Linked DNA regions of Homo sapiens: region 2 is linked to region 1. The links come from fine-mapping of genetic effects on plasma protein levels. Region 1 holds a variant in brackets. A gene starts in the other region. All regions are shown on their reverse strands.

What was found. A credible set is the group of variants that fine-mapping cannot tell apart. PIP is the posterior inclusion probability: the model's chance that the variant is causal. Protein levels are from antibody-based Olink assays in UK Biobank. Linkage for the fine-mapping came from a reference panel and not from the study's own genotypes, which makes the PIPs less certain.
Region 2: it holds the start of KLK4, and the variant in region 1 is the best candidate, but not a certain one, in a credible set for the plasma level of the KLK4 protein (UK Biobank, PIP 0.52).

What each region holds. Positions count from the first base shown.
Region 1 is chr1:205,074,437-205,077,341 of GRCh38, reverse strand. CNTN2 (contactin 2) reads right to left here. Exons shown (of 23, transcript NM_005076.5): 23 at 1-2,905. Among named protein-coding and RNA genes, the nearest start is that of TMEM81, 8.6 kb to the left of the region's middle. RefSeq lists cis regulatory regions at 1,604, 2,054, 2,116 and enhancers at 1,532-1,676, 1,982-2,126, 2,044-2,188. The variant C/T (reference allele first, on the strand shown) is at 1,383.
Region 2 is chr19:50,909,836-50,912,740 of GRCh38, reverse strand. It overlaps KLK4 (kallikrein related peptidase 4), which reads left to right and starts at 1,346. Exons shown (of 6, transcript NM_004917.5): 1 at 1,346-1,402; 2 at 1,992-2,063. The coding sequence starts at 2,003.

The DNA of each region.
Region 1 (2,905 bases):
AAGGGAGTCAAACATTCCTAGCCATTTTGGGCTCTTGCCCAGAGTACAGGCTGGCTGGCCCTTGGGGCTGCCCTAAAGAGGCAGCATACGCTGGGATGAGCACTGGGCTGTAACCAGAATTCCTAGATGAGCCCCCTTAATGGCTTCCCATAAGGTGCAGGGCCACAGAAGGTGGGATCTCCAAGACTTCCTGGGCTGAACACTTTGATTCTAAGAGTCTCATCTCTGGATGGACACTTGGACCATCTCCTGCCCCTCCAGTCACAGCTTCACCTTTCCCAAATCCCATGTCAACAGCTGTCAAAATTCCTCAAAGCTCCCTCAGAAAGAAGCCTCTTCCTTATTCCAGGGCCTCCTGGAATGAGGAAGGTCATTCCAGAGGTTTTTTTCTGATGTTTAACCTCAGTCTCGTCTGTTGTTACTTTATGAAAAGAAAAAGACACCCCCACCTACCCCCATGGCCTTGCCACTCCCTGGCACCATTTGTATCATTTGTTGCCCTGAATGAAAGCAGATAACCTGACCTTGCTGGGCCCTGAGACTCTGTCTGGAGAGAGCTGCCTTCCCCCTGAGGCTGGGTGTACATCTGGACTGTTAGAGCAACAAGGACCAGAGAGCCAGGGCAAAGGGCTCTGTAAGGGGAGCCCAAATGTATGCAGAAGAGAGGACACTTGTCTCCCTAGGCCCTGGAGAGGTGCCTACAGTTGGTTCCTTTTCCTAGTCCCCAGGGTGTTTACTGGCCACTAAGCTGTGGGGTAAAGTACTTGTTTGTGGCTGTTCCTCTTGCCGCCTCCTCTGGGGCTTGATGTATGAGAGGAGATAACCCAGAACTGTGGTCTCATGATCGCAGTGAAAATAAGCACACTCTCAACTCCCCCAGCCCATCTGGGCAGAGAACACGAAAATCAGAGAACCCCTGCGCAGGAGGGGATCCTGAGAAACATCTAATCTAGTCTTCTGCAAGCAAGCTCATGTACAAGTCACTCTAGCAGGAGGCTGTTGCATTTTACAAGCTTGCATGTCCTCAGGTCACCTATTGTCTTATTAAACCTTAGTCAGTACTCTACCTGAAATCTCAGGCTGCAGGAACATTTATTTTGTTGTCGTTCTATCCCTCAAACAAATTCTGCCTGCCCAGTGGTTAGGTTTTCCTGGGGCTCAGTTTTCCCTGGCTAAAAACCCTTCGTGGGTCTCCCAGGAGGTCTGCCTTCCTCCCCTTTTTAGTGGACCTCATTAGCATTAAGGTACTTACTTGTGAGTAACTATCGTTGGCCTGAAGCAAGTTTAGTGGCTGTAGCCTCTAGCTTCACTGGTTAGGTCCTATGCCAAACCAGCTCCTCCCTCGGCCCAGCAACTGGACACCTGTCCCCTGCTTCCCCTGA[C/T]GCAGCCCGAGGCAATGAGGAACGAATTGGATAAAACTTGGAAGGAGGTTTTGTTCAGCATCCCCTTTCTGATAGAGAACCAGGCACAGGCCAAGTCGTGGCCAGAGGGGGGCCAGGAGGGATGCTAGGCCAAGTTTGGACTCCCTGTCAGGGAGAATGGTCGTATAGCTGAGCCCCTAGCACCCTTGCTTGTAAGGGTTGGGAAGAGGTGAGGAGGCTTTCATTAGCCAGCTCCAGGAAAGCTGACCTGGGCTAGGGGTGGGTGGGTAGGGTGCAGTGGGGGTTTGGCTGTGGCAGGGAAAAGGCATGTGAGCTTATATTTTTAAAAAATTGTAGTGGGTAAACATCAACATAAACCTGCCCAGGAAAATAGAGCAGGACTTAAAAGTTTAAAAAACCATAACAAAATAGAGCTCTAACTATAAACTACAGAAAACAGGCTCGGAGCTTCCGAGGACATATGCCCTTCAAGATGCCTGTCCCGCTGCCCCCTGTGAAGGGCCACCTGTCGGAGCATGGGCTTTGGGGTTTCCTAGTTGTGCTGCTGCTCTTGCCTAGGGAATCTGCTCTTGCTTTGGCCTCTTTTCTTGGGGCAAGAGTGAGGGGGACAGGGAGCTTCAAGTCAGCCCTCCATGTTGAAGTTTGGTAGAAGCTCTGCCCACACCTTGGACGGGAACCCAGCCATGCCAATCCCCATGATCACCAATCCGAACCCCTTGAAGTAGAATTTTCACACCCTACTGACTAATCACCTTCTTAGCCAGGCCATAGCCATTCAGCAGTGCCTCCTTCCTCTGGGTAGACAAACAGCCTTGAACAGAAAGGTGGAAGACTCGAGTTCTTAACCCAGCCCCATCTCTTCTGGGCTGTGTGACCTTGGGAATCCCAGACCCTCTCTGGACCACCTCCATTTCCTCATCTGTAAAGTGAGGGGCTTGAAGAAGTTGAGCTCTAAGGCTTCTTCCAGCTCTGACGTTCTGTGACTGGTAGTATACCCAGAGCTCAGGAAAGGATGGCCCATTTATTAACCCCTTTTTCTCCGGGGAAATGCAAGCAGTCCAAGGCCGTCTGGGAGCGGATCTGGCCAGGTGGTCCTAGGTATACCTGGGAGCAGGCAGGGCCACATTTATCCTCTGCCCTTCCCAGAAACCTCCCAATACCAGGACACACAGCATGAATGCTGCATTCCCCTCCCAGGCAGGAGTGAGTCAGTGCTGGGAGAGCAGAGTCTGGGGCTGCAGGTCGGGGAGGCCGAGCTGACTGCAGGCAGCACTGGAGAGGTGGGCGCATGATTGGCCATCTCCTGCCCAAACCCTGGAGGGACTGTGCAGAATGGGTCTTGGAGGGGTGGGAGACCCCACCAAGACAAGCCCTTTAGTCACCCAGCCACCTGAAGTGGCGCTGTCAATCGGGATGACAGGGTCAGGTTGGCAGTGTTGGCTGAGAGGGCATCGTCACCTGGGTTGTGACTATCTCAGACCAAGGCTGGTGCCCCTTTCCACCAAGGGCCCTGGCCTCTCAAC
Region 2 (2,905 bases), not on the chromosome of region 1:
AGCAGACCAAGCCTCCACGCCATCCTTGGCCCCTCTGCTCCTGGCCCCCCACTTTCCATCCATCGGGCAGTAACTTGGCTCCACATGCAGAGGGGACCCCGTGTCCATTCACCTCTCTTCTCCCTTGACCCCGTCACCTCCCACCTGGGCTGTTGCCACTGCCCCCCGCCCCGCCCCCACCATCACTCTCCAAGCTGGAAGTTTTTAAAAAGTAAATAAGATTATGTCACTCCATCCTCGTGCTTAAAATCCATTGCACTTAAGTAAAACCCAAGCTCCTTAATCCTGGTACGTAAACTCCTGCAGGCCCGCCCGGTTCCCGGTCTGCGCTCCTACCCGCCCTGCCCTCCTACCCGCCCTGCCCTCCTCTGGCTGGAGCCAAGTTCTCCCCTGCACCCCGCAACCGCCCCTGCTGCGGCGACCCTCCTCCTCCTCTTCCCTGGGATCTCAGCTTAAATGTTCCCCTTCTCTGAGTCTCCCCGACCACCACCTTATATGCTGGTCCCTGCAGTTTTCCTTTATGGTCTGTGCCCCCGGGTAGGACGCGATCCCCAGTGACGAGGACTTTGCTGGTTCCTCCTGTGGCCCCAGCACCTGCCGCAGAGCTCGGAGTGTGGTAGGCACTCAGCTGCTTTTCACTGAGCGAAGACTTTTTAGTTCTCCCGCTCACCGAGAGCCTACAATGTGCCTGGCACTGTGTGCCTTTCCCTGAATTACCTCTTTGAATCCACTTGGGAAATGGGGCATAATGGTCACTCCAGTTTTACAGTTGGAAAAACAGGCTCACAGGGGTGCAGTCACTTGCCCAAGGTTCCAAAAATAGTTCGTGATGTAGGCTGGATACGAACCTGGGGAAATTTGCTGGAGAAGCACAGAAAGAGAGGGATGAAGGAGGAGGGGAGAGAGAGAGAGAGATTTAATTTAAAAAGAGAAAGAACATGAGAGAGAACAGGAGAGAATGAGAGGAAATGAAAGAAAACACGAGAAAAATAATGAGAGAGAGAATGAGAGAAAGAAAGAAGAAGAGAAAGAGAAAATGAGAGATACAGGCAAGAGAGAGGTATCTCATGAGAGAGAATAAGAACATGAAAAGAGAAAGAATGAGAGAGAGAGAGAGAAAGAAAAAGGAGAGTGGAGTCTAGGATCTGGGCAGGGGTCTCCTCCCTGGGTCCCTAGACCCTGCTGCCAGCCCCTTCTGGGCCCCCAACCACTGCCTGGTCAGAGTTGAGGCAGCCTGAGAGAGTTGAGCTGGAAGTTTGCAGCACCTGACCCCTGGAACACATCCCCTGGGGGCAGGCCAGCCCAGGCTGAGGATGCTTATAAGCCCCAAGGAGGCCCCTGCGGGAGGCAGCAGGCTGGAGCTCAGCCCAGCAGTGGAATCCAGGAGCCCAGAGGTGGCCGGGTAAGAGGCCTGGTGGTCCCCCACTAAAAGCCTGCAGTGTTCATGATCCAACTCTCCCTACAGCTCCATGTCGCTGGATTCTCAGCCTCTGTGCCTTCTGTCTCCACATCTCTCTAGACAGATCTCTCACTGTCTCTAGTTAGGAGTCACTGTCTCTAGTTAGGGGTCTCTCTGTCTCTCTGAATCTATATCTCCATGTCTAACTCTCAGACTGTCTCTGAGGATATCTCTCAAGCACTCTGTCTCTCCGGCTCTGATTCTCTGTGTGTCTTCCCTCCATGCTTGTTTGTGGGTGGCTAGACACCATCTCTCCCCATTCACAGATGGCTAGATGCTTTCTCTAAACTTTCCTTTCTACCTAGTTCTCTCTCTCTCTCTCTTTTCCCATCTCTCTCTCTCTTTTTCTCTCTCAGTCTCTAAATCTGTCTCTCTAGGTTCTGGGTCCATGGATGGGAGAGGGGGTAGATGGTCTAGGCTCTTGCCTACCTAATAACGTCCCAGAGGGAAGAAAGGGAGGGACAAAGAGAGGGATGGAGAGACTTGGGCTGAAGATCCCCAGACACGGCTAAGTCTCAGTCCTCATCCCCAGGTGCTGACGTGATGGCCACAGCAGGAAATCCCTGGGGCTGGTTCCTGGGGTACCTCATCCTTGGTGTCGCAGGTATCTGAGTATGCGTGTGTGTGTCTGTCCGTGCTTGGGGGCACAGTGTTTGTTAATGTTCAGGTGTGACTCAGTGTCCTCTTGCTTGTGACTGCAAAGCTGCCTGTGAGACGGTACCGTGTTATCCGTCCCCCATGGCTGTGCCCCTGCAACTCCTTGTATCGTGGTAAATTTGTGTGTGGCAGTGTGCCTGGGTGTGTGGTTGTACCTGTGAGACTCTGACAGTTTGTGCCTCTGAATATCTGGTGGAGTGACAACAGTGTAATGATGATATGGGGACAGGGGAAGCCGAGGGTGCAGGAGATTGTGCTTCCTGGGGCGTGATCCATTGCTGGGAATCTGTGCCTGCTTCCTGGGTCTTCAGTCCTGAGATCCCCCTCTCCCATCCCCAAGGAACTCACCTCACAGGACTATAAAACGGTGTTTTGGTGTGCATGGGCTTGTGGCTTGGTGTGACTGTGGGCAAGGCTGGGAGAGGATAGGAGTGACTCGGCGCAGGACCGACTCTTTGAGCATCAGTCTGCGCAGACAAGTGACCCGATCCTTGCTCCCAGCAACAACTCCACCCCCTGAGCTTTAATTCACCCCGAAGGACCCGATCCTACTGCTATGAGCCTAGACTCCTCTGTTGAACCCCTCCTGACCGTGGCTTTGCACCGCGATGGCACCAGTCTCACCTCCAGAGCTCACCCCAGAGCCCTGACTCCGCCCCAGAAGCCCTGGTCCCACCTTCTGAGACTGCCTCTAGCCATAACCCAGCTCTTGAAGCCTTGATGGCGCCCCTGCGCTGTAACCCCAACCCTAGGAGCACTGATCCCGCCTTCTCAGCCCACCCCCATGCC